Regions from separate parts of the Homo sapiens genome. Here all the other regions are linked to region 4. The links come from fine-mapping of genetic effects on gene expression. A gene starts in region 4. Each other region holds a variant in brackets. All regions are shown on one strand. Distances are from middle to middle. Region 1 has its middle 5.4 kb from the start of ARL11. Region 2 overlaps CYSLTR2 (cysteinyl leukotriene receptor 2). Region 3 overlaps KPNA3 (karyopherin subunit alpha 3). Region 4 holds the start of EBPL (EBP like). Region 5 has its middle 61 kb from the start of SPRYD7. Region 6 overlaps EBPL (EBP like).

Region 1 (4,620 bases), 69 kb before region 4:
TATTCCACTGAAACCAAATACCTAGGAAAAGCATGGAAGGACACACAGAAATCACAAATTATTATATTATATTATACTATACTATACTATACTAATATTATATTATATTATATTATATTATATTATATTATATTATATTATATTATATTATATATTTATTTTTTGAGACAGGGTCTTGCTCCGTCATCTAGGCTGGAGTGCAGTGGCGCAATCATGGCTTACTGCAGCCTCAACCTCCCAGGTGCAGGTAATCCTCCTGCCTCAGCCTCCTGAGTAGCTGGGACTACAGCTGCATGCCATCACACCCGACTAATTTTTAAATTATATAGTTGTAGACATGGGTTCTCTCTATGTTGCCCAAGCTGATCTTGAACTCCTGGGCTCAAGCAATCCTCCTGCCCTGGCCTCCCAAAGTGCTGAGATTACAGGCATGAACCACCGTGCCTGGCCAAAATGTATATTTTAAAAAACATATAAAAATAGAGTTGGCTGGGCGCGGTGGCTCACGCCTTTAATCCCACCACTTTGGGAGACCGAGGCTGGTGGATCACTAGGTCAGGAGATCGAGACCATCCTGGCTAACACGGTGAAACCCCGTCTCTACTAAAAATACAAAAATTAGCCAGGCGCGGTGGCGGGCACCTGTAGTCCCAGCTGCTGGGGAGGCTGAGGCAGGAGAATGGTGTGAACCCGGGAGGTGGAGCTTGCAGTGAGCCGAGATCACGCCACTGCACTCCAGCCTGGGCAACAGAGCGAGACTCTGTCTCAAAAAAAAAAAAAATAGAGTTAATAAATATATCTATGTGTTATAGATATAAATAAAATGTGTTTGCAATCATTATCTACTGTGTCCTATAACTAATTAAGATCTTCACCCATAAAAATCCCAACCCTATTATGAATTTGGAGTACTTTCTGGTGGTGGACTCACACTTTTTCATGCAAGCTCCTTTGCCCCCTATGCAACCACTGCCCACGTTGTGCTCCAGGGCAGACCATAGTTCACAGGCGGAAGCAGGTGCCATGTAGGAATGAGACCACATGTACCATGAAGCAACGGAGCTCACTGATTCAGAGGCAAGATGCTGGCCCCTCTGGCTGTCACCATGGATGACTGCTGATTTAAGGTCTTTCTTGGTCATCCCACCTGGCACCACCACTTCTGGTCCCTTCTCTTCAGTTTCCTCTACCCAGCTATGTCCTCCTCTACTGATAAGCCCTGAAACAGAGCAAGTGGCCTCTTTTTTAATGTAACAAATATTTTACAATATTCATTTGTAAAGTCTAGAAATGAAAATAATACACAATAGCATCTACCTAGCCACACAATCTTGAAAAACAATCAGTATAATGCTGTAACTATAACGTAAGAAATAAATGAAGGTATTTATTTATTTATTTATTTATTTATTTTTAGAGACAGAGTCTTGCTCTATAGCCCAGGCTGAAGTGCAGTGGTGCAAGTGGTGCAGCCTCGAACTCCTGGGCTCAAATGATCCTCCTGCCTCAGCCTTCTGAGTAGCTGGGACTAGAGGTGTGCACCACTATGCCTAGCTAATTTTTAACTTTTTTGTAGAGACTGGGTCTTGCTATGTTGCCCAGGCTGGTCTTGAACTCCTTGTTGAGGATCAGTGGGAGATGAAAGGGAGGAGAGACAGTGAGGACCCCTTGGCACTACCCACCTTCCCTACCCACCGGCAAGTCCCCAATGAGTGATGTCCAGTATGGGTCTGGGCGGGGCAAGTGATCCTCCTGCCTCAGCCTCCCAGAGTGCTTAAATTACAGATGTGAGCCACTCTACCCAACGGAAGGTAATTTGAAATAAAATAATACATGTTCCCATACATAAGTGCTCAGGACAATCACATTAATGAAGTTGTCACGTTCTTGCATCTAAATTTAGAATCCACATGAGCACCATGGCAGTGGATCGCCGTTTTGGTGCGTCTTATCAGCAACTTAAATGCCACGCTGTTATTCAAAGCGCTGCTGTCAGTGATGTGATTTTCCAAAATAATGAGCAGCTCTTGGAAAAGCTCCAAACAGAACAAAGTGCAAACTTTCCTCAATGCATACAGTAGTTGTGTTTCTGGAAAGTGTAGTGTATATGAAAACCACATGAAAATAGTCTGCGGTTACATATAAAACAAAATTAGGTTCTAGGATCAGATAGTTTTTATTTTATTTTATTTTATTTTATTTTATTTTATTTTATTTTATTTTATTTTATTTTTGAGACGGAGTCTCCCTCTGTTTCCCAGCCTGGAGTGCAGTGGCACAATCTTGGCTCACCACAACCTCTGCCTCCCAGGTTCAAGTGAATCTCCTGCCTCAGCCTCCCAAGTAGCTGGGACTACAGGCACGCTCCACTATGCCCGGCTAATTTTTGTATTTTTAGTAGAGACGGGGTTTCACTATATTGGC[G/C]AGGCTGGTCTTGAACTCCTGACCACGTGATCCACCCGCCTTGGCCTCCCAAAGTGCTGGGATTATAGGCTTGAGCCACCGAGCCCAGCCCAGATACTTTTTAAATGGTGTTTTTTTTCTTTAAACTACTACATAAATGTTTGGGACATTCAAAAGTGAAATTCAAATTTAAGAAACATTTTTTTCTTGCACAAAATATTCTTGGGTGTTATAGGATGTCTAGCATCTCTAGTCCCCACTCACTGAATGTCAGGCACATGCTCAAATCAAACTCTCCAAGAGTGGTCATTGAGAACTACTCTTTCCTGTATATGAGTAGACCTTGTACTCTCTGTCCACTTTTCTCCACATCTGGGGAAAGCTGAATCATGGGCATAAGTACCTGTAAACAGTCACTGATACACATGTTACATCTGTAGCAACCACCCCAAATTCAGATATATAGCTTAGGGCCCCATGGGTTGCCTAATACATGATGGTCATAGAGGGAGGAAATTTCTCGGAGAATTTCATTCAACCTTCAGCATGATTGGAGCATTGGTTCTCACCACAGTACCCACAAAGGTAACTTGTACCCCACCCAGCCCCATCTTGTACATCACTCACTGGGGACTTGGTGGTGGGTAGGAAAGGTGGATGGTTCCTAGGGTTCCTGGCTGTCTCTCCTCCCCTTTGTCTCCCACTGATCCTCAACACAGCTCATGGCTGAGAACTTCTGATTGAGAGATTTATACAAGAAATTGCATTCCTCAAAGTAAGTGATTATTGAGGGAAAAAAAAAGGAAAACCATGAAAAAAACCCCAATGCACCCTACTTGCTTATATGTGCGTAGAATATCTCTGGAAAAATGTCTAAGAAACCAATGGTGTGAGCTGTTTCCCAGGGAGGGTCTGGCATGGCTGGAGCACTGCGGTGAAAGGAGAACGTCCTTGATGCTCTACTCTTTTGTACCTTCAGAATTTTGTATGGATGGCTTGAAAATAGAAAGAAATAGAATTTGATTTTTAAAAGAGGCAGTCCCTGGAAAAAAGTTATTAATTTGCATATTGCAAGTTGAGAAAGTGAGAGACCAGAGCAAGAGGAGGTCACAACAAGATAAAAAGGTGGGGGCCGTTATGGAGCCCAGGGAAAGGAGGGCTGGACAAGAGACTCCGTCCATGTTTCTCTAGCACTTTCCAGGAGAATAAAGCTCTTGTTCTAGCACTCTCCTCCTTTGGACCTATCTGTAGAGAGCAGAAAAGTGACCACGAGGCTCTGTTGCATGATAAACAACCCCTTAAAAACCACCAACTTTCCATGGTCTTCCAGCAACCCATTTGGATGTCGTCCCTACAGTTGACTCCTTCAGTCCCTGTGTGTGTCCTCTGCGTGCCCCTGGCCCCCTGCCTTCCCTTAGCTGTGCTGCACAGAAAACCGCCCCAGCTCTTGGGTCAAACAGATCCCATAAGAAACATCAGAAGAAGCATCCTGGCTTACAAGTTATTTTTTGGTGAGTGCAATGGGCGTGCCGTGCTCCTCCAGGCCTGACCACCTGTATGAGAGTTGGCAGGAGGACATTTCTAAACTCACACTCTTAGGGCAGTAGAGATGGGGCCTAAGACCTTTGTCTCTCCTGGTATCAGTGAGCCCCGTGTAGCCCCTTTTCCTTATTCCAGGTCTGGAAGCTGCAGTCACAGACACACAAAGGTGCTGGGGCTTGCACATTCACCAGCGTCACTTTCTCCAGCCACACCACTACGTTTGAGGGCTCTCCTGTCCTTCTCTAACAGAACTAGTCTGGGACTAGACGCCAGGCTTTGGGCTAAGTACTTGATGTGTCTTCACTTATTAAATCCTTCCAATAACCCTTCAAGTTAGGTACCATTATTATCGTCATCAACCTCATTTTATAGAGAAGGAAACTGAGGTGCAGAGAAATTCAGGTTGAGGTTCACAGCAAATAAGCAGTGGAGGCCAAGTGTGCCCCCAGGTGGACCCAAATCAAAGCCACACTGTTACCTTCTGCTCTGCGCTGCCTCCCGGGGCAGTAGCCCTCGTGAGCCTCCCCACGTTGGGGTGTCTAATGAAAAGCTTCCCTGCTGGTTGAGCTGAAGGGGTCAGGGTCGGGGCTGTACAGAGAAACTCAGGCCACAAGGGCCTTTGGGCAGAACTGGGGTCACAAAGTAATCATGGTTTCCCAGCGAACACAAGACTTT
Region 2 (5,102 bases), 990 kb before region 4:
CAGAAACTTCTGCAGACTTAAACGTCCCTGTCTGACAGCTTTGAAGAGAGTAGTACTTCTCCCAGCACGGAGTTTGAGATCTGAGAATGGACAGACTGCCTCCTCAAGTGGGTCCCTGACCCCCGAGTAGCCTAACTGGGAAAAACCTCCCAGTAGGGGCCGACTGACACCTCATACAGCTGGGTGACCCTCTGAGATGAAGCTTCCAGAGGAAGGATCAGGCAGCAACATTTGCCGTTCTTCTATATTTGCTGTTCTGCCGCTTCCACTGGTGATACTCAGGCAAACAGGGTCTGGAGTGGACCTCCAGCAAATTCCAACAGACCTGCAGCTGAGGGTCCTGACTGTTAGAAGGAAAACTAACAAACAGAAAGGACATCCACACCAATACCCCATCTGTACGTCACCATCATAAAAGACCAAAGGTAGATAAAACCACAAAGATGGGGAGAAACCAGAGCAGAAAAGCTGAAAATTCTAAAAATCAGAGCGCCTCTTCTCCTCCAAAGGAATGCAGCTCCTTGCCAGCAACGGAACAAAGCTGGACGGAGAATGACTTTGAAGAGTTGAGAGAAGAAGGCTTTAGACCATTGGTAATAACAAACTTCTCCAAGTTAAAGGAGGATGTTCTAACCCATCACAAAGAAGCTAAAAACCTTGAAAAAAGATTAGACAAATAGCTAACTAGAATAAACTGTGTAGAGAAGTCCTTAAATGACCTGATGGAGCTGAAAACCACAGCACAAGAACTATGTGACGCATGCACAAGCTTCAGTAGCTGATTTGATCAAGTGGAAGAAAGGTTATCAGTGATTTAAGATCAAATGAGTGAAATGAAGCAAGAAGAGAAGCATAGAGAGAAAAAAGTAAAAAGAAATGAAAAAAGCCTCCAAGAAATATGGGAGGACTATGTGAAAAGACCAAAACTACGTCTGATTGGTGTACCTGCAAGTGACGGGGAGAATGGAACCAAGTTGGAAAACACTCTTCAGGATATTATCCAGGAGAACTTCCCCAACCTAGCGAGGCAGGCCAACATTGAAATTCAGGAAATACAGAGAACACCACTAAGATACTCCTCGAGAAGAGCAACTCCAAGACACATAATTGTCAGATTCACCAAAGTTGAAATGAAGGAAAAAATGTTAAAGGCACCCAGAGAGAAAGGTAGGGTTACCCACAAAGGGAAGCCCATCAGACTAACAGCAGATCCCTTGGCAGAAACTCTACAAGCCAGAAGAGAGTGGGGGCCAATTTTCAACATTCTTAAAGAAAAGAATTTTCAACCCAGAATTTCATATCCAGCCAAACTAAGCTTCATAAGTGAAGGAGAAATAAAATCCTTTACAGACAAGCAAATGCTGAGAGATTTTGTCACCACCAAGCCTGCCTTACAAGAGCTCCTGAAGGAAGCACTAAACATGGAAAGGAACAACCAGTTCCAGCCACTGCAAAAACATGCCAAATTGTAAAGACCATCAATGCTAGGAAGAAACTGCATCAACTAACAAGCAAAATAACCAGCTAACATCATAATAACAAGATCAAATTCACACATAACAATATTAACCTCAAATGTAAATGGGCTAAGTGCTCTAATTAAAAGACACAGACTGGCAAATCAGATAAAGAGTCAAGACCCATCAGCGTGCTGTATTCAGGAGACCCACCTCACATGCAGAAACACACATAGGCTCAAAATAAAGGGATGGAGGAAGATCTACCAAGCAAATGGAAAACAAAAAAAAGCAGGGGTTGCAATCCTAGTCTCTGATAAAGCAGACTTTAAACCAACAAAGATCAAAAGAGACAAAGAAGGCTGCTACATAATGGTAAAGGGATCGACTCAACAAGAAGAGCTAACTATCCTAAATATATATGCACCCAATACAGGAGCACCCAGATTCATAAAGCAAGTCCTTAGAGACCTACAAAGAGACTTAGACTCCCACACAATAATAATGGGAGACTTTAACACCCCACTGTCAACATTAGACAGATCAACAAGACAGAAAGTTAACCAGGATATCCAGGAGTTGAACTCAGCTCTGCGCAAAGTGAACCTAATAGACATCTACAGAACTCTCCACCCCAAGTCAACAGAATATACATTCTTCTCAGCACCACATCACACTTATTCCAAAGTTTACCACATAGTTGGAAGTAAAGCACTCCTCAGCAAATATAAAAGAACAGAAATTATAACAAACTGTCTCTCAGACCACAGTGCAATCAAACTAGAATTCAGGGTTAAACTTACTCAAAACTT[C/T]GCAACTACGTGGAAACTGAACAATCTGTTCCTGAATGACTACTGGGTACATAACAAAATGAAGGCAGAAATAAAGATGTTCTTTGAAACCAATGAGAGCAAAGACACAACACACCAGAATCTCTGGGACAATTTAAAGCAGTGTGTAGAGGGAAATTTATAGCACTAAATGCACACAAGAGAAGGCAGGAAAGATCTAAAATTTACACCCTAACATCACAATTAAAAGAACTAGAGATGCAAGAGCAAACACATTCAAAAGCTAGCAGAAGGCAAGAAATAACTAAGATCAAAGTAAAACTGAAGGAAATAGAGACACAAAAACCCTTAAAAAAAATCAATGAATCCAGGAGCTGGCTTTTTGAAAAGATCAACAAAATTGATAGACTGCTAGCAAGACTAATAAAGAAGAAAAGAGAGAAGAATCAAATAGATGCAATAAAAAATAATAAAGGGGATATCACCACTGATCCAACAGAAATACAAACTACCATCAGAGAATACTATACACACCTCTAAGCAAATAAACTAGAAAATCTAGAAGAAATGGATAAATTCCTGGACACATATACCCTCCCAAGACTAAATCAGAAAGAAGTTGAATCCCTGAATAGACCAATAACAGGTTCTGAAATTGAGGGAATAATTAATATCCTACCAACCAAAAAAAGTCCAGGACCAGATGGATTCACAGCCGAATTCTACCAGAGGTACAAAGAGGAGCTGGTACCATTCCTTCTGAAACTATTCCAATCAATAGAAAAAGAGGGAATCCTCCCTAATTCATTTTATGAGGCCAACATCATCCTGATACCAAAGCCTGGCAGAGACACAACAACAAAAGAGAATTTTAGACTGATGTCCTTCATGAACATTGATGCAAAAATCCTAAATAAAATACTGGCAAACCAAATCCAGCAGCACATCAAAAAGCTTATCCACCACGATCAAGTTGGCTTCATCCCTGGGATGCAAGGCTGGTTCAACATATGCAAATCAATAAACGTAATCCATCATGTAAACAGAACCAAAGACAAAAACCACATGATTATCTCCATAGATGCAGAAAAGGCCTTCAACAAAATTCAACAACCCTTCATGCTAAAAAGTGTCAATAAACTAGGTATTTGGACGTATCTCAAAATAATAAGAGCTATTTATGACAAACCCACAGCCAATATCATACTGAATGGGCAAAAATTGGAAGCATTCCCTTTGAAAACTGGCACAAGACAGGGATGCCCTCTCTCACCACTCCTATTCAACATAGTGTTGGACGTTCTGGCCAGGGCAATCAGGCAAGAGAAAGAAATAAAGGGTATTAAATTAGGAAAAGAGGAAGTCAAATTGTCACTGTTTGCAGATGACATTTAGAAAACCCCATCGTCTCAGCCCAAAATCTCCTTAAGCTGATAAGCAACTTCAGCAAAGTCTCAGGACACAAAATCAAGTGCAAAAATCACAAGCATTCCTATATGCTAATAACAGACAAACAAAGAGCCAAATCATGAATGAACTCCCATTCACAATTGCTTCAAAGAGAATAAAATACCTAGGAATCCAACTTACAAGGGATGTGAAGGGCCTCTTCAAGGAGAACTACAAACCACTGCTCAATGAAATAAAAGAGGACACAAACAAATGGAAGAACATTCAATATTGTGAAAATGGCCATACTGCCCAAGGTAATTTATAGATCAATGCCATCCCCATCAAGCTACCAATGACTTTCTTCACAGAATTGGAAAAAACTACTTTAAAGTTCAAATGGAACCAAAAAAGAGCCCGCATTGCCAAGACAATCCTAAGCCGAAAGAACAAGGCTGGAGGCATCATGCTACCTGACTTCAAGCTATACTACAAGGCTACAGTAACCAAAACATCACGGTACTGGTACCAAAACAGAGATATAGACCAATGGAACAGAATAGAGCCTCCAGAAGTAATACCATACATCTACAAGCATCTCAACTTTGACAAACCTGACAAAAACAAGCAATGGGGAAAGGATTCCCTATTTAATAAATGGTGCTGGGAAAACTGGCTAGCCATATGTAGAAAGCTGAAACTGGATCTCTTCCTTACACCTTACACAAAAATTAATTCAAGAAAGATCAAAGACTTAAATGTAAAACCTAAAATCTGGCTAATATCCAGAAGCTACAAAGAACTTAAACAAATTTACAAGAAAAATCAAACAACCCCATCAAAAAGTGGGCAAAGGATATGAACAGACACTTCTCAAAAGAAGACATTTATGCAACCAACAGACACATGAAAAAATGCTCATCATCACTGGCCATCAGAGGAATGCAAATCAAAACCACAATGAGATACCATCTCACACCAGTTAGAATGGCAATCATTAAAAAGTCAGGAAACAACAGGTACTGGAGAGGATGTGGAGAAATAGGAACGCTTTTACACTGTTGGTGGGACTGTAAACTAGTTCAACCATTGTGGAAGAGAGTGTGCCAATTCCTCAAGGATCTAGAACTAGAAATACCATTTGACCCAGCCATCCCATTACTGGGCATATACCCAAAGGATTATAAATCATGCTACTATAGAGACACATGCACACGTATGTTTATTGTGGCACTATTCACAATAGCAAAGACTTGGAACCAACCCAAATGTCCATCAATGATAGACTGGATTAAGAAAATGTGACACATATACACCATGGAATACTATGCAGCCATAAAAAAGGATGAGTTCATGTCCTTTGTAGGGACATGAATGACCTGGAAACCATCATTCTGAGCAAACTATCGCAAGGACAGAAAACCAAACACTGCATGTTCTCACTCATAGGTGGGAATTGAACAAT
Region 3 (5,102 bases), 65 kb after region 4:
TGAAATACTGAGTAAGTGGGCCAGGTGCAGTGGCTCTCGCCTGTAATCCCAGCAATTTGGGAAACTGAGGCGGGTGGAGCATTTGAGGCCAGGAGTTCAAGACCAGCTTGGCCAACAGGGTGAAGCCTCATCTCTACTAAAAATACAAAAAATAGCCGGGTGTGGTGGTTGCACCTGTAATCCAATCCCAGCTATTCCCGGAGGCTGAGGCAGAGAATTGCTTGAACCTGGGAGGTGGAGGCTGCAATGAACTGAGATCACGTCACTGCACTCCAGCCTGGGTGACAGAACAAGACTCCATCTCAAGAAGAATAAAAACAAAAAAACAACTAAGTGTATTGATTGCCTTATTAACTATTAACTGGTGAGAAAAGGAAATTGCATCACATCAGATGCTGAAGTAGAGCAGAAAAGAGGTTAAAGCAGTGCTGAGAGAGAAATTTAAAGCACCTAATGCAAACATTAAGAAAGAGAGAAAGTCTCAAACCAATAATCAAAACTCCCAGCTTCGACACCCTACAACATAAAAAGCAAAACAAACCCAAAACAAGCAGAAGGAATAAACAGAAATCAATGAAATTGAAAACAAAAAGTAGAGAAAATTAATGAAAAGCTAGTTCTTTCAAAAAAAAAAAAAAATCAGCAGACTGGCCAAAAAAAAAGAGAAAATGCAGAGTTATAATATTAGAAATGAAAAAGGTACTATCACTACAGACTTTGCAGACATCAAAAGAACAAGGGAAAACTACAAACAACTCTACACACACAAATTTGACAATTTAGATGAAATGGACCAATGACTCAAAAAGCAAGAACTATCACACCTCACTCAATATGAAATACCTAATTTGAATAACGCTGTTAACTATTAAGATGATTATATTTGTAATTTTAAAACTTCCCTTCAGGGTTTGGATGGTTTAACTAGAGAATTCTTCCAAATGCCTAAAGAAGAACTAACACCAATTTTATATAATCTCTACAAAAAACAGATGGGTACACTTCTCAATTCACTTTATGAAGCTAATTACAAAATTACCTGAATAACAAAACCAGAAAAGACAGCATTAAAAAAAAAAGAAGAAAAAGAAACTGCAGGCCAATATTCTCAATGACTGCAGATACAAAAATCCTTATCAAAATGTTACCAACTAGAAGTCACTATACTAGCAGGCTTCATTCTAGTGATACAAGGCTGGTTCTGTATTTGAAAATCAATCAATATAAACCATACTAATAGACTAATGAAGACAAATCAATGATTATATTATTCAATGCAGAAAAAAATGACAAAATTCAACATCCATTTATAGTAAAAACACTCAGAAAAATAAAAGCCTAGAGTTAACATTCTAGTGGTGAAAAGTCTGAATACTATGTTTCCCTAGATTGAGAACAAGAAAATGGTGTCCACTCTCACCACTATTATTCAACATAGTATAAGAAGTTCCAGCCAGTAAAATAAGGCAAGAAAATAAAGTAAAAGGCATATAGATGCAAAAGAAAGAAAATAATCCCAGCCAGGTGCTGTGGCTCACTCCTGTAATCCCAGCACTTTGGGAGACTGAGGAGGGCGGATCACGAGGTCAAGAGATCAAGACCATCTGGTCAACATAGTGAAACCCCATCTCAACTAAAAACACAATTAGCTGGGCGTGGTGGTGCACACCTGTAGTCCCAGCTACTCGGGAGGCTGAGGCAGAGGAATCGCTTGAACCCAGGAGGCGGAGGTTGCAGTGAGCCGAGATCGTGCCACTGCACTCCAGCCTGGCGACAGAGGGAGACTCCATCTCAAAATAAAAAATAAAATAAAGAAAACAATCAATTATTTGCAGAAAAGATGATTTAAAAATTCCAAGGAATATACCAAAAACTTTCCAGATCTATTAAGTGAGTTCAACAATGTCACAGAATACAACATAAAAATCAATTATATTTCTATATACTAGCAATGAACACATAGACACTGAAATTAAAAATACAAACAACAGCCGGGTGTGGTGGCTCACATCTGTAATCCCAGCACTTCGGGAGGCCGAGGCAGGTGGATTGCTTGAGCCAAGGAATTTGAGATTAGCCTGGGCAAAATGGCAAAACCTCATCTCTACAAAAAAAAGCAAAAAAAAATTTAGCTGGGCATCGTGGTATATGCCTGTAGTCTCAGCTACTGGGGAGGGTGAGGTAGCAGGATCTCTTGAGCTCGGGAGACGGAGGCTGCAGTAAGTGGAGACTGTGCCACTGCACTCCAGCCACAGCGACAGAGATAGACCCTGCCTCAAAACAAACAAACAATGCTGGATGATG[G/A]CTCAAGTAATCCCAGTGCTTTGGGAGGCCAAGGAGGGAGGACTGCTTGAGCCCAGGAGGTCAAGACCATACATAGCGAGACTCAGCTTCTACAGAAAATTTAAAAATTAGCCAGGTATGGAGGCAAGTGTTTATTGTCCTAGTTACTTGGGAGGCTGAGGCAGGAGGACCGCTTGTGTCCAGGAGTTCAAGGCTGCAGTGAACTATGATTACACCACTGCACTCCAGCCTCAGTGACAGAGCAAGATCCTGTTTCTAGCTTAAAAAAGAGAAAAAATGGAGGGGCATATTGTGTTCATAGATTGGTAGACTCAACTTGGTAAAGATGTTGATTCTCCTCATACTGATATACAGGTTTAATGCAATTCCTATCAAAATCCCAGCAATATATTTTGCAGATACAGAATTATTCTAAAATTTATACGGAAAGGCAAAGTAAGTAGAATAGTTAAAACAATTCTGAAAATGAAAAACGAAGTGGAAGGAATCAATCTAGCCAATTTCAAGATATATTACATAGTTACAGTAATAAACATTGTGTGATATCAGTGGAAGAATATACACATTGAAAAGAACAGAGAACCCAATATAAGCCTACACAAATATATCCAACTGATTTTTTACAAAGGTGCAAAAGCAATTAAATGGAGGACATCAATAGACTTTTCAGCAAACAGTGCTGGACCAGATAGATATTGACAGACAAAAATATTAACCCTGACTTAAGCCTCACACCTTAAAAAAAATTTAATTCAAAATAAATGTGAAACTATAAACTTTTAGGAAAAACCACAGGAGATAATTCTTTGGGATCTGGGGCTAGGCAAAGAGTTCTTAAACTTGACCGTAAAAAGCATGATCCATAACAGAAATAGTTGGTAAACTAGACCTCATCAAAATAAAAAACTATTTTGCTCTTTGAACACCCATGTAAAGAAGATAAAAAGAGAAGCTAGAGACTAAAAAAAAAAAATTTGCAACCACATATCCAAGAAAGGACTAGTATCTAGAATTAAAAAACAAAAACAAAAAACCTCTCAAAGCTCAACAGGTAACCAACCAACCAATGGAACTAGAAAATGGGCAAAAGAAATGAAAAAATATTTCATGGAAGAGGATATACACATGGCAAATAAGCACATGAAAAGATGTTCAATACTATTAGCCATTAGGGAAATGCAAATTAAAACCACCATGAAATCTTATTATACATCTAAAATTTAAAATTGTGATACTTTCAAATGCTGGTGAGTATGGAGAGTTTTCATACATTGCTTGTGGGAATGTAAAATGACAGCACCTTTGGCCATTTCTTAAAGTACACATGTAACAACCACAGGACCCAGCAACTACACATTGGACATTTATATGAGATAAATGAAAACTCATCTACACACACACACACACACACAACCTGTACGCAAATGTTTACAACAGCTTTATTCTTAATAGCTACAACCTGGAAACAACCCAGGTATCCTTCACGCTTAAACTGTGGTACATCCATACCATGGAACACCATATAGCAATTAAAAGAAACAAACTGCTGATACAAACAATGACTTGGATGAACATAAATACTGTACGAGCATCTTGCAAGATGTTACCACTGGGGAAACTGGAGAAAGGATAAACAGGATCTCTGTGTTATATTTTACAACTGCATGTCAATCTACAATCACCTCAAAATAAAGGTCAGTTTTTAATAAAAATTTTAAAGGATATACATCAGATGCTGAGGGGGAAGGAAAAGAGAAGGTCACAACTAATTTCAATAATGTACATGATGGGGAATCAATAGAAAATAACTAAGAAAGAGAGGACTAAAGAAAACAAAAACAAAACCACAAACTAGAGGCCAAAAGTATACTAAAACAAAAAATAAAACAGATCACATACAATGATTATTTTACACATAAATATATAGGTGATGACAAGGAAACTAGGACTTGACTTTAAAACCATGAAAATAAACTGCGTATGAATATGACAAAATCAAATTTAACAAGAAAAGCAATCCCTAAAAATAAAGAAATGAACCTAAACGTGTATCCATTTGGTAGCATAATCACACTATCCTGTGTAACTTTTCAACACAGCAATTTAACCCTGCATCTCCAGTTAACCCTAAAGAGAACTACCAGGAAAACTCCAAACTGTTCTCGGTAACCCTATTACTGGGTGCAGCGCTGCTGGTGTTGTTATTCTGAGACTGTTATGTGTCTATGTGGAATAAAGCAAATGAGTAAAAATGTCATATTCTATTATTCCTGGTGTCAGAAAAAAACAGGAAGTTTGGCCTAGGAGAAAGACGGATATATGATAGAAGTTGTTTAGTAAAATCCCATAGTCCTGAATTTGAATTGGAATATCAATATATGCATTATATGTGTGTGTTTATGTGTGTATGTATGTATATAAATATGCATATAAATATGTATACATATAAATATACACACACACATATGTTTATATACATACACACACACACAAAATTTTGTTTTAATCCTATATCTATCCACCCCAAGATGTCTACTTGGAGATGTGTATCTCCAACGCCTAGAAACAGTGACCAAATCAGTGAGTGCATAGACAATACTCTCAAAAATACCACCAATAGCAAACAGAACTGGTTCATTCCAACTAATGGGCAGAAAAGGTACAAGGTAAGCCTGCAATATCTTAACATACCAAATATCAAAGATATTTACGAGACTAGAGTCTTGTAAAAACTACTCAAGAGCTAACATGAAGAGGCTCCAAATGTTCAAAGACAATACAATTATTATCAATTATCA
Region 4 (5,102 bases):
TGGTGAACACACGCATATAGTTTAAGTATTTTTACAGCTTTTTGTTTGTCTAAGGTATGTTAAACATTTTTCTTTTTTTTCCCAAGATAGAGTCTTGCTCTGTTGCCCAGGCTGGAGTGCAGTGGCTTGATCATGGCTCACTACAACCTCCACCTTCCAGGTTCAAGCAATTCTCCTGCCTCAGCCACCCGGGTAGCTGAGATTATGGGCACCGTCACCACACCTGGCTAATTTTTGTATATTTAGTACAGACGGGGTTTCACCATGTTGGCCAGGCTGGTCTTGAACTCCTGACCTCGTGATCCACCCGCCTCAGCCTCCCAAAATGCTGGGATTACAGGCATGAGCCACTGTGTCCGATATGTTATACATTTTTATATATATACATTCTGATATGCTATATACAGTTATACCCAGCCAATATGTTACACAGTTTTCTCTCACTGGGCCTAGCAACATTTTTGTTATGTTATACATTTTGTTATACATTTTTTCTAACCGGGCCTAGCAATCTGCTTTATCTCCCTTGTTCTGTGGGAAACCTTGTGTTCAAGTGATAGCTTAAAAATCAATTCTCGGCTGGTGGCGGTGGCGGTGGCTCACGCCTGTCATCCCAGCACTTTGGGAGGCCAAGGTGGGCAGATCATCTGATGTTAGGGGTTTGAGACCAGTCTGGCCAACATAGTGAAACCTCATCTCTACTAAAAACACAAAAATTAGCTGGGCGTGGTGACGGGCGCCCGTAATCCCAGCTACTCGGGAGGCTGAGGCAGGAGAATAGCTTTAACCCAAGGGGCGGAGGTTGCAGTGAGCCGAGATAGTGCCACTACACTCCAGCCTGGGCAACAGTGTTAGACTCTGTCTCAAGAACAACAACAAAAAAAAAGACAAAAAAAAAAAAAAAGAATTCTATAAATAAAGGAGTTGAGAGAAACATTCACTGTCCCTTATCTCTACATGTTGATTATCAGAATAAAAAGAATTCCAGCAACATCAGTCATGGGCACAAAGCCAACCCGTAAACATTTACAGAACTCGATGATTACCCAAAACTCGGCTTGCTTTCTCAATACTACTGACTTTGGCTTCACATTAGCCACAGGTGTGTCTAGAGTTAAACAAGGTCAACTTTACAAAAAAAAAAAAAAACAAACTGATACTTGGGCATAGTTTAAAAAAAACTTAAAAGTGTGTGTGTGTGTGTGCGTGCGCGTGTGTGGTGGGGGGCGGGGCATTTCAATATAAATGCCTTAAACACAACCTTCCTGGCTATTTTATAAAATGGGTTGAATCTCTAAGGACACATATTTCCTAAGACCTCGACTGATACACAGAGTGCAAACTTGGGAGCCAGACTAGACTGCCTCAGAATCATGCCAGCTGTGTGGCACTGGAAAGTCACCTAATTTTGCAGCGCCTACCTTCACCTCTGTAAAATGGGGAACAATAATAACTAATTTATGGATGCTGTAAAGATCTGAAATTTTAAACTCAGTAATGCGCCTGGCACACATTAGACACGGGTGTTTCGTTTGTCTTGGCAAAGGCTTCGGGTTTTGCGACAATAGCCTTGCTGCCTCCGGAGCAAGCATCTCTCCTTGCCCCCTCTGGGGCATTTAAAAATGACCTCAATTCTACTCTCAATTATGTCCAGTTCAACAGTTACGTGCAGGTTACAAAGCCGAGGAAGCTGAGGTATCTTCTAAACTAACATAGCACGTACAGAATTTTTTTAAAGTTTGGTGGAGGAATCGGCAGCACAAGGTAAGCTGCGCTCTGTTCACAGACCTGGGAATCAGAACTCCGGCCGCCGCGGCCTCCAGGCGCCTCTCAGCTAACAGACTTCCTGCAGCAGGGGGAGGGGCGGCCAGCTCGCTGCAAAAAGCCGCAGGACCCCCTCACCCCGCCTTGCCGCCCCCGCTCCCACTCTCTGGGATGGGGAGTGCAGGGTCTAGGCGATGGCACTTACCAGCGCGAAGTGCACCAGCGCGTCGTAGCAGAGCCAGATGAGCGCCCCGCGGTCCGCCGCCCCCTGCCCGCGGCCCAGGCGCAGGCCCAGGGCGCAGCCCGCCGCCAGCAGCGCGGCGCACAGCAGCAGCGAACCGCCAGCCTCGGCCCCCAGCTCCCACTCAGCGCCCATGCTTCAGGCTTCCGACGCCAACGGCCCAGGACCATGCGGCAGAGGAAAGCAGGGAGAGAAACGACGGGGCGGGGCTGGCCGGGAAGGGGCGGAGCCGGATGGCCAAGGAGGAGCGGAGCTGATTGGCCAAGGCGGTCCGGGGAGGGACGGGGCTCCCCGGCCGGGTCGGGGCCAGAGCGAGGATTCCGTGCCCGCCTCGCACCCTGGCCAGCCTGCTGAGTCCGGTGGTTTTGCCAGGTGCCGCCCATGGAGGTTCCGTAGAAGGAACGTGCTCACCAACTTGCGCAACCGCCTCGACCAAACCTGTTCCCAAACCGAGCCCAAAGGATTGGTAATAGGGCCACACCTTTTGATGTTGTTTCGCTTTTAACAAGGCTCAAACTTTAAGCCACAAAGTGAAGCCTAGGTAGTGGAAATTTTGCCAGTAGACCGGGGCAGAATTTTAGGGGCAAAAGGTTTTAATTAGGCTGCAGCAAGCCTTACCAGGGAGGCTGGGGGCCAAGGGAGTTTTCAGCCACCAGCCGGCTTAAAGCCTTTATGGCCTACTCTGACAATCTTTCCATTTCTTAAAAATCCAGAAAAGTAGAAGGGTGGGTGAGAGGAGCGGTAAGTCCTATTGGCTTGGCGATAGATGCGTTTAACCTGTGGCAGGCCAGGTTTCACTATCGCAGGCCTCCATCACAACTGCTTCAGCACTGAGTGGTTAAATTAAATATTAAAAGCTGAGGCCGGGCGCGGTGGCTCACGCCTGTAATCCCAGCACTTTTTGCCAAGGCGGGCGGATCACGAGGTCAGGAAATCGAGACCATCCTGGCTAACACGGCGAAACCACGTCTCTACTAAAAATACAAAAAATTAGCCGGGCGTGGTGACGGGCGCCTGTAGTCCCAGCTACTCCGGAGGCTGAGGCAGGAGAATGGCGTGAACCCGGGAGGCGGAGCTTGCAGTGAGCCGAGATCGCGCCACTGCACTCCAGCCTGGGCAACAGAGCGAGACTCCGTCTCAAAAAACAAAAAAAAAATTAAAAGCTGAAAGAGTCAGTGCCCATATACCAAAGTCTGGAATGTAACAAAAGCCCACCAAGAGTTTTGCCTAGGCCTTTCTTGGGCCTTGAAGCATGACAAGATAACTAAGGAATTTTTAACAGGACCCGTTTAGGATTAAACAAGTTTTATTGGGGGTCTGAAGAAACTCCCCAGGCCTCCAAAAACAAGTTTATTGGGAGTCTGGAGGAATTCCACAAGCCTCCATGATTTAGCAAGAGACAAAATAAGGGTAATCATCCCAGCACCCAGACCTATTTAGATTAAGTAAATTTACTGAGGCTCCAGAGGAAGGTCTTCAGGATTAGAAGTTGTTAATCACTTACGTCTTTAGATGAATGCACTCTTACACGTAGACATATAGCTTAGAAGGTATATACGCTCTGGAAAAACTTTGTAATTATGAGTTGGTCTGGCAATAATTTCCAGACCTTCTCCCTGTAACCGGTTGCAGAAATAAAAACTCTTCTTCCCCAGTTCATCTGCACCTCATTATTGGGCTGCCCAACCCCCAGTTTGGTCCGGGAACAAACCTACATTATTTAACATCACAACAACCCTATGAGGTCGGTGAAATAAGCCAGTCACAAAAACATACTTATGATTCCACTTACAGGAAATATCTAAAATAATCAATTTGCAGAAACAAAATAGAATGATGGTTACCAGGGGTGGGGCGGGGCGGGAGTGGGGGGGGGGCGCGGGGAAAAGTGGAGTGTTATTTATTCGGATAGTTTGATTTGCAAGATGATGTTCTGGAGATTGGTTGCACAACAACGTGAACATACTTTACTGAGCTGCACACTTAAAAATGGTTAAGATGGCAAATTTTATGTGTATTTTACAGTTATTAAAAAAAATGCTGGCACTGAACACAAGAAATTTTTCCCTTAGTCACTTCCTATACCATTTTTTATAGCAGTTAACACCAGATAGAATGATCCTTGTTTACACACTTATTGCTAATCTCCTGCCACTATAATGTAAGTCTTCAAGGCCAGGGGTTGTGGCTAGCTTTTTTATTGCTGTATCCCTGGCACCTATTACAGAGTTTGGCATATATTAGCTGCTCAGTTAAATAACTGGCGACTGAGTATGGTCAATCTAGCCACCTATGCTCTGGATCCTGTCCTGTAACTAACTTATCATCCTTTAGGGACCACTCGGCCCACCTCCCCTTCAGAGCAAAATAGAAACTTAATGAAAAAACTGATCAGATCCCCTGTCTTCATGTCTTGACCCTGCTCCTCAGTCCTTTCTACTCTGGTTTCTGCCTTATCACACTGATATAGCTCTCACTAAGGTGACTACTGGCCTCCACATCACTGAACCCCAAGAACAGTTCATTTTCTTAGTGTAGTTTACTTCTCAGCAGCATCCCAGCACTGAAATATTTTTCCTTTGGTTTTCTGAGAATACAGCCTCCTTAGCCATTCTGTTTCCTTTGCAAGTGCATCTTCCACTACAAATGCCTAGTGAATGCTGCAGCTCCACAACCCAGTCCTCGGCCCTGTTCTCACTCCAGACCCCAAATCCAGGCAGTCTCATCCTTACCCTCTGCTTTAATGACCAGCAAAACCTGCAGAGAACTCAAATCTCTAGCCTGGTCCTATTCTCTGGACTCCAGACCAGTATTTCCAACTGCCCTACTTGACAGTCACTTGGATGTCTCAATATAACCCAAACTGAGCTCATCACTTTCCACCCCAATGTCTGATTCTCCTTCCTATCTCATGTTACTTCCACTCATCAGTTACTACAACCCGGAAACCTAGAAATCATCCCCGATACTTCTCTCTCCCCAAACTTGGCATCTAAGGCATCACCAACTCCTCCTCAGCAGCCAAGTATTTCTTGATTCCATGCATTTCATGGACCTGTTCACCATCTCGTCTGTGCTTCACTCACTAATGTGACCA
Region 5 (5,102 bases), 180 kb after region 4:
TGAAACCTCCATCTCCTGGGCTCCAGTGATTCTGCTGTCTCAGCCTCCCTAGTAGCTGGGATTACAGGCATGCACCACCACACCAGGCTAATTTGTTTGTATTTTTAGTAGAGATGGGGTTTCACCATGTTGGCCAGGCTGGTCTCAAACTCCTGACCTCAAGTGATCCACCTGCCTTGGCCCCTCAAAGTGCCGGGATTACAGGTGGGAGACACTGCACCCGGCCAGAAACAACTAATCTATTATTTGTTTCTATAGATTTGTCTGTTTGGGACATTTCATGTAACTAGAATCATACAGAATGTGGTTCTTTGCGATTGGCTTCTTTCAGGCAGCATGATGTTTTCAAGGTCCATCCATGTGGTAGCAGGTATCAGTGCTTCATTTCTTTTTACTGCCAAAAAATATTAAATTGACTTGTATACACCACACTTTATTTATCCATTCACCTTTGAATTGTTTCAAAGTTTTGACTATCATGAATAATGTTGTCATGTACATTTCATATACAAGTTTCTGTGTGGACATATGTTTTTATTTCTCTTGGGTGCATACTTAGGAGTAGAATTGCTGGCTCATATGTTAACTCTTTGTTAACATACAGAAACTGTCAGACTGTGTTTTCAAAACAGTGCACCATTTTGTATTCCTACCATTAGTGTATGAGGGTTCTACTTTTTCCATATCCTCACCAACAATTGTTATTATCTGCCTTTTTGATTATAACCAACGTAGTGAGTGTGAAGTGGTATTTCATTGTGGTTTTGATTTGTGTTTCTCTGATGGCTAATTCTATAACATTTTATAATCAGAATAAAATAAGTTCTATTCTAAAAAATAGCAACGACAGCAATTCTTCTTTAGGTAAGACATTGTCTGTGTTCCAGTTTTCTCTGACAATCTGTGACCCAGTAGTCTCACAGACAGTCCTTTTGGATAAACATAGAAATTTACCCCTCTGGTCTTAAACTTATATTTGTTTTATCTGAGTTCCTTCTTCAGGAAAGGACACCCAGGACTCTCAAAAACTATCAAAGAACTGGCTGTCTGCGGTGGCTCATGCCTGTAATCCCAGCACTTTGGGAGGCCAAGGCGGGCGAATCACGAGGTCAGGAGATCGAGACCATCCTCGCCAACACAGTGAAACCCCATCTCTACTAAAAATACAAAGAATTATCTGGGCTTGGTGGCAGACACCTGTAGTCCCAGCTACTCAGGAGGCTGAGGCAGGAGAATGTCATGAACCCGGGAGGCAGAGCTTGCAGTGAGCCGAGATCACGCCACTGCACTCCAGCCTGGGTGACAGAGTGAGACTCCATCTCAAAAAAAAAAAAAAAAAGTTTCAAAGAACTGAAACTCACCAGATGATCCCCACATCCAGAAAGTGAGATGATCTCATGCGTCATTAATCATGATTGCTTTCTTACTCCTCCCTAGTTCCTGTTTTCCCACACATTGCTAAATTTCTTCCCTGCCATATAAACCTCTAATTTTAATTGGTCAGGGAAATGGATTTGAGACTGACCTCCCATCTCCTTGGCTGTAGCACCCGATTAAAGCCTTCTTCCTTGGCAATACTCATCATCTCAGTCATTGGCTTTCTGTAGGGGGAGCAGCAGGACCTAAACTAAACCCTGCTGTTTCGGTAACAGATTTTGGTTCCCTGACCAGGAACACATTGCTCATGGTTTGGCTGCTGCAGGCCAGGAATCTCAGAAGCCATCCTAAGCAGCTGCCCACCCAATTTTGTCTGGAGGTGAGTTTTGGTCTCCCTCTGGCCCTGCTGCTGACCCCAACTGTGTTCCTGATTGCCTAGAAAGAGCATCCTTTGAAATTTGACATCTGCATCCACATGGGATAGTGTCCTTTGTGGGTCCTGATAGCAGGATCTGCTCCTCTCAATTTGGGAAATATTTATAGAAATTTCCATTTGCAGGTTGAACAAGCCCAACTGACTTGAGAGAAGCACCCTGACTGTTTCAGTGTAGACATTCTTGGGGGCTTGTTTGTAATTGTGTGTTTTGTGTGTGTGTGTGTGTGTGTGTGTGTGTGTATGTGTGTGTGTCCAGGCAAGTGAGTGTCTTGCAGGTACCACACAGCAGGATTGGATCCTCTCAATTTGAAAAATTTCAAAGGAATTTTATTTGCAGGTTGATCAAGCCCAACCAATAGAGAGAGGAAGCACCCCAAATGTTTCAGCTTGGACACTCTTGGGGCTTGTTTATTGCTGTAGCATTTGAATTGTGTTTTGGTGATTGTGTGTGTGCCATGGGAAATCAGAATTCAATAAACTGAAATTCTTTTGTAATACTGTTTGACCCCAATATTGTTTGGAATCTGGAGTTTGCTGTTGAATGGGAAAGTGGGATGGAGTTCTGTGTATCCAGGCTTTTGTGCTGCTGTTCTAAGCAGAGTTGGGCCTGGTTATTTATTTATTTATTTTTGAGATGGAGTCT[C/T]GCTGTGTTACCCAGGCTGGAGTGCAGTAGTGTGATCTCAGCTCACTGCAACCTCCACTTCATGAGTTCAAGTGATTCTCCTGCCTCAGCCTCCTGAGTAGCTGGGATTACAGTTGCGCTCCACCACACCTGGCTTATTTTTTTTTTTTTTGAGACGGAGTCTCGCTCTGTCGCCCAGGCTGGAGTGCAGTGGCGCAATCTCAGCTCACTGCAAGCTCCGCCTCCTGGGTTCACACCATTCTTCTGCCTCAGCCTCCCGAGTAGCTGGGACTACAGGCGCCTGCCACCATGCCTGGCTAATTTTTTGTATTTTCAGTAGAGACGGGGTTTCACTGTGTTAGCCAGGATGGTCTCGAACTCCTGACCTCAAGTGATCCACCCGCCTCGGCCTCCCAAAGTGCTGGGATTACAGGCGTGAGCCACTGTGCCCGGCCTACACCTGGCTTATTTTTGTATTTTTAGTAGAGATGGGGTTTCACCATGTTGGTCAGGCTAGTCTCAAACTCCTGACCTCGTGATCCACTCATCTCAGCCTCCCACAGTGCTGGGAATACAGGTGTGAGCCACCACGCCCAGCCTTGGGCCTGGTTATCATGCGATGTTCTCCCATGGTGCTGTTTGGCTTCAGTGTTCTTTGGAGTCTGGAGAGGTTTGGCCTTTAAAAAACAAATTGCCATGGAAACTGCTTTACCCACAATTTTGGTTCACAGCCTTCACTGGATTGCCTATCCAGTCAAACAAAGTGTAGCCACATAAACTGGTGATTTGTATTGCTATCTTATGGCTACAGTTCAAAGGCAAAGGCTATTGTATCTTTGTTTATATATGTGTGTATACATGTCTATATATGTTTATGTATGTACGTTATATGTTGTGTCTACCAAATTGGCTTATAAATACAAAAAACTCATATATTAAGTCCAAAGTCTTTTTCAAGTTCACAAGACTTACATAAACCTTTAATAAAGAAGCTGGCTTTAAAATTACTGATAAAATAAAAGTAGAAGGGTCTTCAGAATTGTCAGCATACATTTTTGTCTAGGTTTTATATTTGTCTCTGCTAGATGTTTTGAGGTGTCAGGGTTTGGCACAGAAGGTTATAAAACTGAACCCAGCTGGAATAAACAAAATAATCTTCGTTTGTGTGCCTTCTTTGACAAAAGAGATCAATTTAATGTTGTTAGCTGAATCTTCTGAGTTATTGGCAAAAAATACTTATGTATTTAACTTTAAGTTTCTTACTTAGATCCTGGCTATTTAAAAAAATGGTTAGCTGGATGCGGTGGCTTACACTTGTAATCCTAGCACTTTGGGAGGCTGAGGTGGGCAGATCACGAGGTCAGGAGTTCGAGACCAGCCTGGCCAACACAGTGAAGCCCCATCTTTAAAAAAAAATACAAAAATTAGCTGGGCATGGTGGCAGTGGCCTGTAATCCCAGATACTTGGGAGGCTGAGGCAGGAGAATCACTTAAACCCAGGAGGTGGAGGTTGCACTTCAGCCTGGGTGACAGAGCTAGACTCTATCTCAAAAAAATAAAAATAAAAAATAAAAAATGGAAATTACTTTGATTGATGACTAGTTGTGTCTTATATCTCAGTTTTCAGAAGTAATCTAGATGAACTTAAAAAATGAAATGATTGAGTACATGTAAATGGGATACATGTTATAGGTAAACATTTTGTATAATTTAAAATCTTAAAATTATTTTTGATGCTTATTGGATATCTGATTCATTTCCAATTAATAAATGGTTATGATATGGGAAAAAATAATTTTACAAATTGTGGATTAGTTCTCATCTATCAAATGCTGATATCTGATAAGCAGCTCAGGATTTCCTACTTCCTAGGTTTTTTCACTAAAATTTAAGGTTACTAAGAATAAGAATTCTAGTTAATATATAATTCTGTATATAAAGTGTGCCAAAAAAGATGTGTTTTTATTGAGAAAAAGAATCATTTTGTCTGGTTCAGAAGTTATCTAAAGGTTAATTCAAATTATGGGTTTGAAAATGTTATTTATGAAACAAGGTAGAAAGTAACCAGTAAGTACAGGAGAGAGATGTGAACAAAGTTATGGATATGAAGATGTATTTTTGGTATAGGTTCTAAAGAAAAGATTCCAAAGAAAATAGAATAATTATGTATGAAAAAGGATCTTGTATGGCAAATTTTTGTCCTAAAGTAAAATGACTGGTTATTTAAAAAAAAAAACAAAAAAACAAAACAGAAAGAAAAAGGGAAAATGTAGAACAAAACAGAAAGTCCAAGCATGTCACAGATGGTCTGTGTAAGTCATACGTTGTCTGTGTGTCTCTCTTCATGCAAATATTCTTTAAAACCTGATAGAAAATTGGAGAAATTTGGCTAATTAACATTGCTTATAGTTAAATCTTGTAGTCTTGATGAAGGTAAAATAAGAAATATAGGAAATATTGTAAAGAAATACATTGGTAGTTTGGCAATTTTAAAAAATATAGTTAAGCATGAAGCCAGATTTAGCGTAGAACCACATCTCACATACATGCTTGCATTGATTCACACTACATTTGCTGTTCTGCAGATAGGGCTAGCACTAAAGTATAATACTGGTCATGTACTGAGAATGAATTTCTGTTCTTTGTTATTTTTTTTTTCTGTGAGAC
Region 6 (4,466 bases), 27 kb before region 4:
GTGTGCCACCACGCCTAATTTTTAAATTTTTTATTCCTTGTAGAGACAGGGTCTCATTGTATTGCCTAGGCTGGTCTCAAACTCCTGGGATCAGGTGATCCTCCCGCCTCAGCCTCCCAAAGTGCTGGGATTACAGGTGGGAGCCACCGCGCCCAGCCTCTATTCTTCCACCTTTTATCTAACAAATATATGTGGTCACAACCTACTCCAAAGGTCACCTAAGTGTTGGGACATGTAATGTCTCCCCTCCTTCCAGCAGGACAGAAGAAGGGCACCTACCGGTAATATTTTTCTTTGACTATGGCATAAATGAGGAACAATGCCAGAGACCCATCCAGGGCGACGGTCAGAATTTCCACAGACACAATGGTTGGATCAAAATAAACCCATCTTGCATCAGCTTTGCCATATTCTTTCCCTAAAGACAAAATCCATGTTGTTACTCAAATGGCAACAATTTTTATGACAGTTCATGGAAATGACCTTTCTTTCCTTTAAGGTGGAGATAAAATGAGTAATCGCCACTCTCTCTGCATTCTTCACGATGCCTTAGTGGAAGGCAGGAGAAGCCCTGGGACCAAAATGCGTTTACCACCTGACACAAGCACTGAGAACAGCAGCAGGTTTACAGGTGTCCAATCATTCAGTTTCCAGCATGCTTTCACATACACGCCCTCCTCAGCCCCACCCTCTTCAACATAAGTAGCAGAATTTTAAAAGAATTCAACATGGTCAGATTTTGCAAAGACAATCTCCAGTCATGATCTTGGTAAATACATTGTAATTCCTTACTTCAAAATTTCCATATAAATTCTGTAAGTATAATGGAGATGTGGGAAATTTGTTATGAAGGACATGTTTATAAAAAACACGTTTATGGCCAGGCACGGTGGCTCACACCTGTAATCCCAACACTTTGGGAGGCCAAGGCGGGCAGATCACGAGGTCAGGAGATCGAGACCATCCTGGCCAACATGGTGAAACCCTGTCTCTACTAAAAATACAAAAAATTAGCCAGGCATGGTGGCGGGCACCTGCAGTCCCAGCTGAGGCAGGAGAATGGCATGAACCCAGGAGGCGGAGCTTGCAGTGAGCCGAGATTGCGCCACTGCACTCCAGCCTGGGTGACAGAGCGAGACTCCGTCTCAAAAAAAAAAAAACAAAAAAACAAACAACCAAAAACTTGTTTCTTGGCCAGGCACGGTGGCTCACGCCTGTAATCCCAGCACTTTGGGAGGCCAAGGTGGGCGGATCACTTGAAGTCAGGAGTTTGGGACCAGCTCAGCCAACATGGCGAAACCGTGTCTCTACTAAAAATACAAAAAGTAGCTGGGCGTGGTGGCGCATGCCTGTAATCTCAGCTACTTGGGAGGCTGAGGCAAGAGAATCGCTTGAACCCAGGAGGCGGAGGTTGCAGTGAACCGAGATCGCACCACTGCACTCCGGCCTGGGCAACAAGAGCTAGACTCTATCTCAATACAACAACACGTTTATTAATAACAGAAGAGAAACTAGGTGCTGAAGGGACAGTGGGCAGGGAGGGGAGGAGAGAGCCCAGACTGCAGAATGAATCGGAGTGGGCAGAGGGGCATCTCCGCCCACAGGGACAGGGAACTCACAATGGCTCTCACACAGTCTCAGCTGTGCTGCTTGGGGAGCCAGTGTGCTCTCAGAGATCCATCCAGACCCATTATCAGAGTGGTTTCTTCTCAGGAACACCATGACTCAGAAAGTCTTTTCAGGGCTGGAATGATGGCCAGGTATTATGGAGGCCATTAAAAATTATTTAATTACTTTCTTAATTTGTAAAAGTAATACATGCTGGTCCTAAGATCTCAAATGATTACAGTGAAAAAATGGAAGTGATCACACCTCGTCTCCCCCTTTAATACTGCCTCGCATTATTCAGAAAAGGTGTGAAGTCCACAGAGGAGCCTGTGATCTGCTACTGAGCAGCACACAGCTCTTGTCTCATAAAGACCAGAGGAAGGATCCCTCAGGGCCTGGGACAAAGGTTTCTAACAAAAGGCTGTCCTAAGAGAAAGGACAATAAGAGGATTAGCTATTTAATGGGATAACACACAAGGCACATGCTGAGGGAATGTTCTGTGAGAGGCCACCGAGAGTCATCAGCCTGTCCTTAGCTGACTGTCTGCAGTCTCCTGTGCCCTCCAATAACTAACTGGAAAACAATGTCATATTGAAACGTTTCTCCTCTAAATTTAAATATACATACAATAGGTGAAATGTACCAGTTAGTGCACCTAAAATCTAATAAAATATCACCTAAGTAAAATGTCAGTTCTTTAGGAACAAAAAGAGATATTGACCAAGT[CT/C]TTTTTTTTTTTTTTTTGAGAAGGAGTCTCACTGTTACCCAGCCTGGAGTGCAATGGCATGATCTCGGCTCACTGCAACCTCTGCCTCCCAGGTTCAAGTGATTCTCCAGCCTCAGCCTCCCAAATAGCTGGGACTACAGGCACCCACCACCACACTCAGCTAATACTGACTGACTGAGACGGAGTCTCACTTTGTCACCCAGGCTGGAGTGCAATGGCCAGATCTTGGCTCGCTGCAACCTCCGCCTCCCGTGTTCAAGCAATTCTCCTGCCTCAGCCTCCCAAGTAGCTAGGATTATAGGCACTCACCACCATGCCCGGCTAATTTTGTATTTTTAATAGAGATGGGGTTTCACCATGTTGGTCAGGCTGGTCTTGAACTCCTGACCTCAGGTGATCCACCTGCTTTGGCCTCCTAAAGTGCTGGGATTACAGGCTTGAGTCACTGCACCTGGCCTAATTTTTGTATTTTTGGTAGAGACAGGGTTTCACAATGTTGGCAAGGCTGGTCTCAAACTTAACCTCAAGTGATCCATCTGTTTTGGCTTCCCAAAATGCTGGGATTACAGGCGTGGGCCACCGTGTCCAGCCTTCAACAAGTCTTTTTTTTTTTTTTTAAGCATTTGGAAGGTGTTATGGTAGGCCCTGATAATGCAGCTGCAAGTAGGACCATGTTGGCCCTTAGTGGCCCACATCCTAGTGAGGCTGAAAACCAGGCAGTAAGTGGCGGTTAGCGAATATGAGGGCAGGGAAGAAGTGGCACTGAAGCCAGACTACGAACTTCAGGGAAGACTTCCTGGAGGAGGTGTTTTGATCACTGCCTCTCTTCCCTGTTGGTGAGGGATGGACTTCTGCCTGAGGGCTATGGTGATGGCTGAACACACAAGACCCGACACTGGGCAGATGAGATGGAGGAGGTTTATTAGTTGCACACACTGTGGCCCGGGAAAGGAGGACATCTCGCCATGCAGGGCCACATAGGGGTTGCACCTGGGAACAGTGTTCGGGCAGGGGCCACGCAGGCAGGCTTTGCAGTAACAAGAGGAGGGGGTGGGATGAGCCCTGGTTCCCCACAGAGGATGTGATTGGCTTGTCTGGATAATTCCACAGGCAGACTGGTGGGAACTGAAGCCTGCTACTGAGGGGACAAGCATTTGTCCCCTCCAAATCTGTGCCTGCTCCCCTTGATAGGGAGAGCTATCTGGTTAGGGAACCTTATATGTGGAAGCAGAGTGGGGAGGGAGACTTGCAGTTTGGCCATCTGAGGCCCCCCTGGATCTTACCAGGTATCAAAGCAGACATAATACTGAATCCCAGCCAGGGAGGGTGGCTCACACCTGTAATCCCAGCATTTTGAGAGGCCGAGGCGGGTGGATCAGTTGAGGTCAGGAGTTTGAGACCAGCTTGGCTAACATGGTGAAACCCTGTCTCTACTAAAAATACAAAAAATTAGCCAGGCGTGGTGGTGGGCGCCTGTAATCCCAGCTACTCGGGAGGCTGAGGCAGGAGAATGGCATGAACCCAAGAGGCGGAGCTTGCAGTGAGCCGGGATAGCACCACTGCAGTCCAGCTTGGGCGAAAGAGTGAGACTCCGTCTCAAAAAAAAAAAAAAAAAAAAAAACAAAAATTAGCTGGGCGTGGTGGCGCACACCTGTAGTTCCAGCTACTTGGGAGGCTGAGGCAAGAGCATCACTTGAACTGGGAGGCAGAGGTTGCAGTGAACTGACATTGCGCCACTGCACTCCAGCCTGGGAGACAGAGCGAGACTCTGTTAAAAAAAAAAGAAAAAAAAAAAAGGCAGACATAATACTGAATCCTAATTTCAGGCCTTATACCACAAGAGATGACTCCAGATCTGAGTGGAAAATAAGGGTGTTTCAGGGAGGAGCATGTGCAAAGGCCTGGAGCTGAGAGGTAGCGTGTCTGAATCTACAGACAGTTTAGCAGAGCTGATGGTGGGGGAAGGTTAATGCGTGAGAGGAAGGTAGGGGACGGATAGTAAGGGGCCCTGGAATCCACCAGTCCCAGCGCATCTCCCTGTGGCATCTCCCTCTGGCAGTCCCTCTGGCATCTCCTCTACTGCTAAACTTTAACCATCTCTTTGCTTATTAAACACTGAAACAATAAAAA

Evidence for each region. PIP is the estimated chance that this variant, and not a neighbour inherited with it, causes the effect.
Region 1: its variant is the best candidate, but not a certain one, in a credible set for the expression of EBPL in whole blood (INTERVAL, PIP 0.72).
Region 2: its variant is the best candidate, but not a certain one, in a credible set for the expression of EBPL in pancreatic islets (PISA, PIP 0.87).
Region 3: its variant is the best candidate, but not a certain one, in a credible set for the expression of EBPL in whole blood (INTERVAL, PIP 0.53).
Region 5: its variant is the best candidate, but not a certain one, in a credible set for the expression of EBPL in whole blood (INTERVAL, PIP 0.71).
Region 6: its variant is the best candidate, but not a certain one, in a credible set for the expression of EBPL in subcutaneous fat (TwinsUK, PIP 0.82).

The regions. Positions count from the first base shown.
Region 1 is chr13:49,620,769-49,625,388 of GRCh38, forward strand. No RefSeq gene overlaps it. Among named protein-coding and RNA genes, the nearest start is that of ARL11, 5.4 kb to the right of the region's middle. RefSeq lists an enhancer at 1-221. The variant G/C (reference allele first, on the strand shown) is at 2,425.
Region 2 is chr13:48,697,109-48,702,210 of GRCh38, forward strand. All of the region lies in intron 4 of CYSLTR2 (cysteinyl leukotriene receptor 2), which reads left to right. Among named protein-coding and RNA genes, the nearest start is that of CYSLTR2, 46 kb to the left of the region's middle. The variant C/T (reference allele first, on the strand shown) is at 2,270.
Region 3 is chr13:49,753,997-49,759,098 of GRCh38, forward strand. The region is part of intron 1 of KPNA3 (karyopherin subunit alpha 3); the gene reads right to left. Among named protein-coding and RNA genes, the nearest start is that of KPNA3, 36 kb to the right of the region's middle. The variant G/A (reference allele first, on the strand shown) is at 2,305.
Region 4 is chr13:49,689,285-49,694,386 of GRCh38, forward strand. EBPL (EBP like) reads right to left here and starts at 2,202. Exons shown (of 4, transcript NM_032565.5): 1 at 1,970-2,202. The coding sequence starts at 2,140. RefSeq lists an enhancer at 1,497-2,494 and silencers at 1,958-2,097, 2,128-2,327.
Region 5 is chr13:49,873,060-49,878,161 of GRCh38, forward strand. No RefSeq gene overlaps it. Among named protein-coding and RNA genes, the nearest start is that of SPRYD7, 61 kb to the right of the region's middle. The variant C/T (reference allele first, on the strand shown) is at 2,457.
Region 6 is chr13:49,662,778-49,667,243 of GRCh38, forward strand. EBPL (EBP like) reads right to left here. Exons shown (of 4, transcript NM_032565.5): 3 at 280-418. Among named protein-coding and RNA genes, the nearest start is that of EBPL, 26 kb to the right of the region's middle. The variant CT/C (reference allele first, on the strand shown) is at 2,336.